Homo sapiens: one gene and its partners. The protein of the gene in region 2 interacts with the protein of the main gene of each other region in a pairwise test. Each region holds a gene or a part of one and is shown on either strand. Other genes may lie near its edges. The genes, in order: IRF4, PROX1 and LBH.

Region 1 (3,341 bases), on a different chromosome or scaffold from region 2:
GCTCTATGTAACCTTCAGCTGCAAGGATTTTAGCACCAGCAGCTGCAGCCTGGTTCTTTGAGTTTTTCTGCTGGACTGGAAGTTAGTAGGTGCATAGGAGCTGAGCCATGTAATCAGTAGAAGCGATGAAGCTGAGAAAGGAGACTCCCTTGCCTGGCTGCTCAGAGAGAGGAAGAGTTTGGAGCTGAGGTCAACAGCAGACGTACGGATCCCCAGGGGTTCCATCTAAATCCTGTTCTCTTTATCCAGTTTTCCATTTGATTTTCACATTTGGAGTGTTAGTTAACCTATATCCCTTCTTTTTAGCAATGACCAAAATCAGAGGAGCTTCGAATATAAACAAAAGAAAACATTAAAAACAACTTCCTTGAAAGCCCTAAACCTTTTAAAGTACAGATAAAGGAAGAGGAGGCAGATGCTAACGGGAGAGCAGGATGATTACTCTTCACAGACACTCCTCTGTGTGGGAGGAGCAGCCCGGCACTTGGCCAGCGTTTGTCTCTTTAACAAGGTGAACACTTGGAGATCTGATTTCAGAGACACGTACAGCAGCCTCTCTGAAGGAACGTAACCGCAGGAGAAAGTGCTTTAAAAGCTATCAGGATGCATGTTTAATAACACACACACACATTCCATAACAAATTTTTAAAAGTTTTTATTTACCTAAAAACATAAATTTATCAAACATATCAATTTGCTTTGCAGAGCAATTTACATAAAAATTCATGATGTATACCAACGACAGCATAGCATTATCTACCTCAGTTTGTGAAGCATCCTTTCCTACAGATCTCAGCAAAACGCAGAGCCAGTAGGGGAAATTCAAGCTTTCATTTGGGGGCCTCTGGGGTCCTACCTGCTGGCAGTTCTTTCAGCAGAAAGTGGGGTACGGGGGATGCTGAAGAGGGGGAAGTGGACCCCATTGCCTGTTAAGTCCCATCTGTCTCAGTTTGAAGCAACACGGGAATTTCCATTGGAGGAGGGTTGGCCTGCCGGCCTGGCCCTTCTCTCACGTCCCCTCTACTTCAGCTACATTTCTTATGCATGTTCCTCAAAGCTGTGAAAATCAATACAAAAAAAAACTGACCTTTACTTCATTCCTGTAACAGGCTATCAGGATCTCAAGGAGATCCACCTGCATCGAGATCAGTCTCAAAAACGGGGCATGTAAAACATAACTTACAAAATGGTGTGTAAGGTCTGAGAGCCTTCACGCACCATTCAGACAGATGCAGCTGGCCACAGAGGACTTGGGGAGATACGTAATACAAATAAAGACCTTAACCAATCCCAACACTTTCAGAAAAACTTTCACCTGTGGGGAAGTGGGGGCATGTGACTGGAGAGCAATGAACGGAAGTTTACACTGGATCTGAATTGTTACTAAAAAAGTAACTGACACGCACACACAAGTGGCCTTCCTGGCGGAGCATCAACAAAGCCAAGAGGTGCGAGTACCCAAGACTCCCAGAGTTGTTCCACCCCTGGGGCTAGCTGTATTTATGCCCTCGCTCAAAGACCAGCTTTTTCAAACACTAATACCTACCTGCCCTTGGTGGTAACAATACTGTAAGGGCTGCTCATTTCACTGTAGGATTTTACATTTTTCTCACCATGGCACAGTCTCTTTTTAGTTCATACCCAATAGTCTAGCTGGGTTTTCTGTAGGGCGACTAACTCTCCTGTTTTCGCTCAGGACTCAGGGGCTTCCTAGGTTTCAGTTGTAAATGAGTCGGTCACTTGGTTCTCTATAGTGTTCCAGGAGATATTAATTACTGCTTGAGGTTTTCCTAAATATACAAAATCTCAAGAACAAGACATAAACCAAGAAATGCACCTGGGAGACACATACATTTTTTCCATATGACCCAGTGCTCTTTAACAAGTCCTCAAATCTTCAACAGCACTGTCCACTGAGTACAAACTAAATTCTAGTTTGCCAATTCCACTTTATCAAGACAAGGAATGAGGAAGCCGTTCCTTTTCAGAGTCCTGAGACAAGTGCTAGGATTCCTAACCCTGAGTATTTCATAGCTAGTTCATTCCCTAGGTCATACCCTGGATCACTCAGAATTTTAAAAAGTCAACATACACATAGATGTAAAGATAGGAAAGGAGGTAGTGGCCCCAGCCAAGAAGCATTTTCCAGAAAATTCAGCTCCACTGTTAAAGCAGCATAATATTTAAAAAAACAAAGAAGAAGAAGTCACAAAGCAATTGAAATGGAGCATCCGCTTGGAGAATTAAGAAGACAGGGTGCTCCTGAGACAGACTTCCAAGACAGCTTCTTTGAAGTGCTGTGTGGGGTTAAATATTCTTCAGCAAAGAGGGTCACAGGTAAGGGCCCCGTGAAACAGCAGTTCTTAATATCATCTTTATCTTCCCTTAGGATAATATACCCCAAAATACTTTGCATCTATAAGATGTATACATCACTGCAGTTCACGAAACACAGTCTGCTGCCCAATACATATCCATGTTGCATGGCTAATGAAATGTCAAACCCTACTGGGTACATGGCAGTGGAGCTCCACAGCAAGGCCTCTGAGCAGAACGAGGTAAATCTTCACTGTTAGCTACAAAGAGCACTGCATGAAAGTGTGTGCAAGATGACTCCATGAGGTTTTCTTTTTAAGTTTATGTATATTTACAGAAAAGTGAAATGTGTTGGAAGAATAAACACCCCTTCTTGTGGACACTTTTAGAGAGGAGAATTTGGGCTGGGAAAAAAGGAGATCCTTTTTATTTTTTTGCTGTTCTCTACTGTTTGTCTTTTCTGTAGTTAATATTAATATTAATTGTATTAATATTCTGACTTTAATATTAGAAACTTTTTAAACATTAAAAAATAATGTTTCAGTGCTCACTGCTCACTAAGCTTGATAAAGGCTGAACTGTGTAATGTAGGGATACAGCAGGCACTTACTAGGTGCTTGTTGAATGAATTTAAAATATCCATTAGAAAAGCAGGAACACACATTTGAGAGCTACGCAATCTTCTGCTGATCCTGGGAGTAATAGTAAATATCCTGTAGTATGAGAAACGGCCTGGAGGTGACGCCCCAGTCTACTGCTGTACTTTCTCAAAACCACAAAAATGTAAGTGATAGGTATACTTAAGCAAGTGGAGGTCTTTGGGATTCTATAAATAGAAGCATTTGGAAAAAGCCAAGTAATTTTAAGGCCCTGTCAAACTATAATTGGCACGAGGAAGCATAGAACAGATGAAATAAGCAGAAACAGCCCACTGAGTGTGCAGTTCCGTAGTCAGCTCCATCCTGCTTCCAGTGGTGGGTCCTGGCAGTGCTCTCCAGCCTGGGAGTCCCCGGCTCCTCCTCCTT
Region 2 (3,649 bases):
CGGTGGGAGTGCTGGAAGGTATATGACACTGGCTATGGCATCCATTGCTAACTTGCTGCCATTTGCTCAGTGACCGTCGCCTGTCAGAGGTTGCCACATGCAATGGTGAGGATGCACAATTGAGTTGCAGAATCTTGGCTACTTTAGGGTGAGGATGGCAAAATATTTTCCTTGCTTTAGGTCGGTAGGCTATCTATACATTCACTTGTTGCTAAGGAGACAAATGCACCCAACATGTACTACACAACTCTTGTCATAAGAGGTTTTTTTTTCTTCCTTGCAATTACAGTTCTGTTTGTTCTTCTCTCCACACTCTGCAGTTTAAAGCAAATTATTCTACTAATGTACATGAAAATATAAAATGCATTATTTTGAACACTGCTATGCAAGTTTCACATTTTACCTTTTAGTGTTAATCTAATGGAGCATCTTGACTCACTTGCTTTTTATCTTATTATATCCTTTTAATTGTTTTTCCTTTTAAATAATAGCTAAAACTTGGGAAGAGTAGTTTTGGCATGGAGAGGACAGGGAGGGGGCTGTTGCTTTTGTGAAAGCAATGGTCCAAAACCAAATACAATTTGCCTGTCTTGGATTTATAGTTAACTCCTTTGAGAGTGACGCAGTAGTTGGGGCTAACAAATCAATACATGTGGGTTAGCAGATCAATAAATGGCCACTTACCCAAAATAAGAAGGCCTATTTATCTGGAAACATCATTACCTTTTAGATCTGTAAACAGCAGCAACTAAAACAGTTCCCAAGAGAATGTGAGGCTAACCATAACAATCCAGGCTTCCTGATTCTCCCCCAGATTCTTGGCACTCCTCAGCAGACTCAGAGCTGGGATGGCTCTGGTCACATCTGTGCCGCAGCCTGGCCCTGCCATTTCCTCAGCAAATTAATGGCTTTATAATTTATCAGAAATGAAGATGCACGTGGAGAAAATCAATGTGGTCCCCCACAAGGTCAATTAAGGGCCCTTCCTAGAAGCTTCTCTAAGGATTTTCTTTTAGAAGAGTGTCTAAGAAAAATAAGAAAAAAAAGAAAAGAAAGTGTGCTTGTGTGTGCAAACACACACACAAACACACTCACACAACTACCCAACAAAAATTTCACCCCTTAGGCAGAAATGTCAAATAAACACAGATATTTAGGAAAGGTAAAATTTTCCAAATGACCTTCATCAAGTCTAGCGTGACTAATCTTAAGAATGGAGGGAAACCAGAAAGTTACTAGAGAAGCATAATCAAATTAATATGGATAAGCTCTTGACTACTTATAACAGGGTGTTTAACCAAATATTCTGCTGAGAATTTGTTCAATTAACATTCCCTTTAATATCCCATGCAATTTTAAAAAGATCACCTTGGTCTGTAAATAGAAAAGTTAAGTAGTGCAGGTTTTTTATTTTTTTATTTTTTGTTAAACTGAAAATAAACACTAAAGAAAGAAATTTTGATTTTATATCTGTAAGCCAAAGCAGCTTAACTGAACTTGTGTTTTTGTTTGAGATCCTTAATGATTACAAAGACGATAATTTATGACTGACATACTTCTTGTGCCAAGGAGAGGGCTGAAAGGCCCTCCAGTAACCTCCATTAGACTGATACAGAAGACTAAAGGAGCCCAGCACACTTCAGGACCATCTGTCCAAATGGATAAGTGAAATAATAGTTGCAAGCTGTCTGCGACTGCCTTGTGATAAGAGTTTTAGGCAAGTCCAAACTTTGACAGACACTCTCAGATCTGGGTTCTAATCTTTTCTTTCAGATGGCTACATTAAGACAACGTCATGCATTTAATTGGAAGTCACAAATCTTTTAAAATTTGGTGTCATACAAAATACAAAGTGTTTTTCTGTGTTTCTTAGATGGGCACTGAGCTACCAAAACTTCCTGAAGCTTTTAATACATCTAATTTATGCTAAGATGTTTTTGTTCTTTTTATCTAAAAAAAGTAAAATATCCATTTTATTTTGATCAGTATTTAGAGGCTTTTTATCTAACAAAAAATTATTCTGATTTGGATTTCTCAAGTTCATTTTTGCTTTAAAATGTTTCCTGTTGGTAATACTTGGAACTGATCAGTTGAAATGGAACACAGAATTAATCTTTATCTCTTGCTTATTGTGTAATTAAGATAAAATTCCCATAAAATATATGTTTCTAATAAACTATTAAAAATAACTAATGAAACATTTAAAAGGCAACAGTTAGATAATCCTTTTTTTCTCCTCAAAATAAATCTGAACTGACCAATTGGTTAATTTCCCTTTTAAGTGCTTGTGCTGAAAAGCAACTGTTCTTCCAAGAAAGCACTAGCTGTTTCCAGGATACTTACACACGCACAATGACTCATGATGGAATAGATTCAGTAAACATACAGCTGTACTGAACACGAGCTAAGCTCCATTCAAGGCCAGGAAAGAAAATGAGCACAAATAAATATTAAGGAGGTAAAGGGGAGTGGGGTGAGGGGGGATGGAACGCAAACAAGATCTGTCCCAGCAGCTCATGTGGCTGTGCCTCAATTCTCTTAGCCATAGCTTTGTGAAGACAGATGACATTCAATTCTATGTGTAATGCAAAATAGACAATAACTGTTGAAACTTGAGACAGCTGCCAGGTGTAAAAAAAAAAAAAAAAGAAAAAAGAAAAAAAAAAGAAAAGATGATAAATCCATAAATTAATGAAAGACATCTGCTCGGGAATATAAAAGATCAGAGAAGCAGGGTACTGCAGCTGAACGTAAAGCAGTGTTCAAACAACCTGAGAACCTAAGTGTTGTCTGTTTACCAAGTACAATATAACCTTACCTAAACAGCAGCCACGGGAGGAGCAGCGGAGGCAGCAAAAAGGCAAATGGGAGAATAATAAGCTGTGAAAGCGGAGGAAGAAAATTCTTTTTTTCCAGCTAAACTCTGGATTGTAGCTAGAGATTGTACGTGCTGCAGTTCCCAGCAAATGGGTTGAGACTACTTACATTTTCCAAAACATTTGAAACCTAAAGAATTTTAGTTCTGCCTTATTCCCTAATTTGCTAAGTTTCTAAGAGGTTTTCCCCCTAGAAACTAAAATGGGGAGAAAAGATCTAAACTCTCTCACATAATGACAGTGATAGAGCAAGTCGTAACTCCCACTAGGAAGTTCACCATAATCGGAGGGCTGTGTAGTGTAGGGATTTTTTTTTTTTAATTTACTTACTTTATAATTTTTTTCAGGGGAGGGGGGTAGTGTAGGAGCCCAAAGTCTTTTAGTCTTTAATCTACATGTTTTGCTCTAGCTAATATAAGTACTATAGCCTCCACAAGACTTCTAAAAATGTATAAGATCAATTTCTGTGGATGGTTTCAAATTTCAGAAATTCATTTCTAATCTATGGTTCCTGGTTGGATTTTAATTTCAAATTACTAAACCATTTTCCTTTCTAAACTTCAAGTCTTTCTAACATTCTCCCTAAAAGTTGAGTAGAAAAAGCCGGCTGTTTCAGAGAACAGGCTCAATTTCTTCACCTGCACGTCTTAACGGCTTATACTACTCCTCTTGTGCTTTAACTGGGTGCATGCAAATGTTTGGGGCCTAAACTAGGCTATTTTTCTTGAGATGCAAAGAGGATGAATGACAAGGAACATCATGAAGAAAAGCAA
Region 3 (4,300 bases), on a different chromosome or scaffold from region 2:
GCTTGGGAGGTGGGGGAATTTCTCTGGTTGGAGGGGGCAGCCAGGGGCTTGTCATGAAGCTGTGTTTTCATAGGAAGCACACTATTTTAACTCAGGTTGTACATATAAGCATATAAGTGATTGAAAATAGCCCAGTTATTTTTAAATAAATTATTCTCATCAATTCTTATAATTTTTGTTTGGGCTGGTTTTGCGGGGACTGATGAAAATTATGAGGGTCTTCTCTCACGGCTTCCTTCAGGGTCCTACCCCTGTCGAACCTTCGCCATTAATTCTGTCATCCTTTTGCCTGAGATAAGCTATGCGTTTCCACTTTCAAGTACATATATACGGATTCAATACACTCACTGCCTTTCTTTTAAAAAGCTGATTCACTTCAAAGCCAATTTAATTTTGCTTAGTTTTTGATCTCCCCGCGCCCCCTTTCCTCAGCCCCTATACACAGGTAGGTGAGGGTTCTAAAGCCATTTTACAGGCGTGATTGAAGCGGAGGCCACAGAGCGGCAGCGCTGGGTCCCGAGTGAGACTCCCATCATGTGGCTCTGGGGGGCTGCGCAGCTTTGACTGCCTGGACAGACGCCCAGAGCTGCAATTCCTGGGCAGTGTGGGAGGCGTTCGGCTAAAGCTCTTTGTTTCTGCTGTCATGAGCGACTCCTCGGAGAAGACGTGGGAGTCAAGGATGGGGGGCGGCGTGCACACCGCCCGCCCACACCTTCTGCCCCCGCTGCAGACCGGGCGTATGTGTGTCTCCAATGGAAAAATCCTACCCAGGACGACACCACATCCTTGCTCCCACAAATAAAACCTTCCACGGAACTCAGGGCTGCAGACCAGCCCTTCGCAAGCCAACGCGCCCCGTGGGCACTCGGTCCCCCGGCTCCGCGTCTCTGCCACCTTCCCACCGCTTCTTCTTTAACCATGCTCTTGTTTCCCCTCGCTGATCGCAAGGCTGCGGGCGAGGATTCCAGAGAGAGGCCTAGTATGGGGAACAAACGCTTCAGAGGGGTCCGAGGTGGGCTGGGGACAGCCAGTGGATGGGAAGGAGGGCGCTGGCGCCGGGCGGCTGGGGTGGAGGAGTGGCGGGTGCCCTACCCCGGCGCAGAGCAGCCGCCGAGCTGTCATGTCCCGAGCGGCCCCCGCGCCCTCCTTGCGCCCACCTCCGCCGCGCTGGAGTTCGGGGTGTGCGTGGAGGGGGCTGTGAGCGGGAAGCGGCGCGGACGCGGAGTCCGGGCCGGTGCGAGTGAGCGCGTGTGCGCGTGGGAGAGCGGCGGGAGGGGGCCGGGCTCGCAGCCGCAGCGAACCACGGCCCCGGGAGCAGAGCCGAGCGCGCCCCCGAGCCGCCGCCCGCCGGAGCTGCGAGCGCTGAAGCCATTCATGATTTTGGTGACGTTATTCCAGGAGTGGGCGAGGGAGGGCGGGGCCTCTCGGGGCCAAGCCCCGCCCCCGCCCCTATAAATACGGCTTCCCGGGCTCTTTGTGGGGCTGAGTGCTCAGTGGAGAGCGGGGAGTTGTGTCCACCTTGCCGACGTCGCTAGCCGTGGGGCTGTCCTGGGAAGGCGGACGGCGAGCGCCCGGTGTCCGCACTCGGCCGCCTGCCGTGCCCGTCTGCGCCCGTGTCATCCTCACTCGGGACGCAGGGACCGTTTTTAAATCACAGGGGCGTGTGTCAGCCTGCCCTAGGACTTCATGTCTATATATTTCCCCATTCACTGGTGAGTACCCTGCGCCTGCGGCGGGCGTCTGTCTCGCGGCGGTGGCTGCGGGCCCGGGCGCCTGCTTCGTGCCGGCTCCGGGTGCGAGGGCAGCCGGCGGCGCGGGCGCTCAGCGCTAACCCGCCGCCCGAGCCCGTGCAGGAGTCAACGTCAAGGTTGCAAAGGTGGGGGTGGGGGGAGGGGGTGCTGAGAACATCCAGACAAAGGACGTGAACTCGGAGCCCTCACCTAAGTGACGGCCGGAGGGTTTGTATTGGTTGGCGGGGGAGCCAGGGGTCACGTGTGAATCCCCCCCAATGAAACCACCCTATGCGGAGAGCTGCAGGAGGCGCGCGCCCCACTTGGCGCAGGGGGGCTCCTGCTCTTCCCGGGCCCCTCCTCTTTTTCTTTTTGTTTGCATGCAAGTCTCAACGTCGAGGCCGGCAGCAGCGGGGCTGAGCTGGTGCGGCCGCAGGGTTTGCAGAGCTCCGGGGGGGTGGGGGGCGGGAAACGCTCTCCCCACACGTAACCCCACTAAAGCCACAAGCAGCAGGGCACGCGCTGCAGCCTCTCAACCCCTGCCCTCTCCACCGCCCCTAAAAACCGACGCACATTGGTGGGGGCCGGGACTGGGAGGAGCCGCCTTCGCCGTGCTGAAGGGGAAGGAGCCCGGGCCGGGCGCGGGGCGTCGGAGGTTTGCCCCGGACTGGGGATCGGAGCCGGGAGGGATGCAGAGAGAGGCAGGCCCCTGACTGCTGGGACTTCCTTGCTGGCAGTTTCTTCCTTCCTGCTCTGGGTTAGAGGAGAAGCGGCCGGGGGCGAGCGCCGGCAGCCCCGGAGCGCGCTCTCAGGTGCGGACGTGGGGAGCTCGGCCCCGAGTCTCCGGCAGGCGCTGAGCGAAGGGAAAACCGGCGCAAGCCGCGGCGGGGTCCGGCCTGGCCCAAGAAGCGGAAAGTTCATGCTTCTCGCTTCAACTTTTCGGGCCGGCGCCACAGCCCCGAGCGAGGAAGAGCCGCCCCTACGTCAGACTCTTCACCCTGCGTGCGCTCTTCTGGCTCCTTTCTTTGGAGGTCGCCAGCAGCCTTTCCAAGACCCGGGAGGAAACTGCCTTTGCAGGGCCCAGCTCCCGAACCTAAACTTGCCGCAAAGCCCCGCATCTTCTGTTAGTCTCCCTGCCCCCATCCGTCCCAGCCTGGCAGTGTTTAGAGAGGGGACTGAACTTCCCTCTCTCAACAGTTCAAGTTCCCCCACCCCGAGGCTTGTGTACCCTTCTTGTGGGTGCCCCTCCCTTGCCTCTCCCGTGGTGTGTGAGCAGCTAGGTGCCTTATTATAGGTGAAGCTTTGAAGGCTGTTGGAGGCTTTGTGCCTTTGGCTGCTCAAAATTTGCCAAGGTGGGTGTTTGGACCCATTAAGAATATTATGAGAAATTAAGGTTTAAGTTTATTTCATCGATTAGCACTTTGCAGCTTGCAATGCTTTTATGCAGACATTAGCCCTTAACCTAACTGTGAGGTATGCACTATTAGCATCAGAGTAACAGACAAACAGGACACTTGTGGCTCAGAGAAGTTACAGGACCTGTTCAAGATCACACAGTTCTTGAGGGGCAGAGCCTAGAACCTATTGCTTCTGTTTCTAAATCCAGTGTCATTTCTTATCTATGTAGTAACCATACAATTGAAGAGGCATCTGGTACCCCTGTTTCCTTAGATACTGTCCCTCAAAAGACTCCCCCATATTTTTGTTTTAAACCATGTGCACAGGCACGATGGTGGAAAGCATTGGGTGCTGTGTAGCAGGTACCTGTATTTGGTGCTTATGTTCAGCATTATGTGCACGGGATCCTGTATGTGCCCAGAGTTTGTGCAAGGATAAGGGAATATTCGTATCCTGCTTAGAGAGTACAAGGCACTTTCACATGTCAGCCATTGGTGGGCCAGCTTGGCCCCTCTGGAAATTTCCTTTGCAGTCAGAGTCGGGTATCCTTAAGGCTTTTAATCCAGGGGATGTTTTTCAAGCTGTGAGCATGCAGCTGCTGTGTCTGGGGCTAGAGAAAGGGGATGGATGGCAGATGTGAAACTTGCAGAAAAGCTGACCCCTTGGGGCTTTAAGTGGAACATTTTGCCAAAAGGAGCACCAGAGAGACAAATTTAGGAAAGCTGTATGATTGGACTTTGTTTCCCTCCAGTTGACCTGTTATTGTTATTGTGTATTAATAATATATAGAGTTCCCCTTTGGAAAGTTCATGTGAGGATTATTTTTATTCTTAGTTGGAGAAGTGAAGGGAGATGTGGTTGAATTGGTTTTAATATAGACAGATGGACTCAGCTACCTACTGTTTTGGTTTCTCTGGTTCTGTCATTTAAAGAAACATTCAGGGTCCCTCTGTGCCAGTGGGGACTAGAGTACAGGAGAGGAGGGAAGAGGTTTGCCAGAGAGGTCTGCAGACAATGGGCTTTGTCTGTTGCGGCTGAGCCCTGGGGCTGTGGGCTTGCAAGGCGCTTCCTCAGGGTGTGAGCTTGTTTTGCTGCAAGTTCTGTTTTGAACACCTCTCTTCCTGTCTCCAGACAGTCCCCTGATCCCACAGCAGTGAATGCATGAAGAGTTA

The links.
Region 1: the proteins of PROX1 (region 2) and IRF4 interact in a two-hybrid assay, tested with the Homo sapiens proteins (one large-scale study listed by BioGRID and IntAct).
Region 3: the proteins of PROX1 (region 2) and LBH interact in a two-hybrid assay, tested with the Homo sapiens proteins (one large-scale study listed by BioGRID and IntAct).

Annotation. Positions count from the first base shown.
Region 1 is NC_000006.12:408,738-412,078, reverse strand, and holds the end of IRF4 (interferon regulatory factor 4), read right to left. Parts: 3' UTR 636-3,341; downstream 1-635. UniProt on the Homo sapiens protein: Transcriptional activator. Binds to the interferon-stimulated response element (ISRE) of the MHC class I promoter. Binds the immunoglobulin lambda light chain enhancer, together with PU.1.
Region 2 is NC_000001.11:214,001,412-214,005,060, reverse strand, and holds part of PROX1 (prospero homeobox protein 1), read right to left. Parts: intron 1-3,649. UniProt on the Homo sapiens protein: Transcription factor involved in developmental processes such as cell fate determination, gene transcriptional regulation and progenitor cell regulation in a number of organs.
Region 3 is NC_000002.12:30,230,053-30,234,352, forward strand, and holds the start of LBH (protein LBH), read left to right. Parts: upstream 1-1,481; 5' UTR 1,482-1,686; coding exon 1,687-1,712; intron 1,713-4,300. UniProt on the Homo sapiens protein: Transcriptional activator which may act in mitogen-activated protein kinase signaling pathway.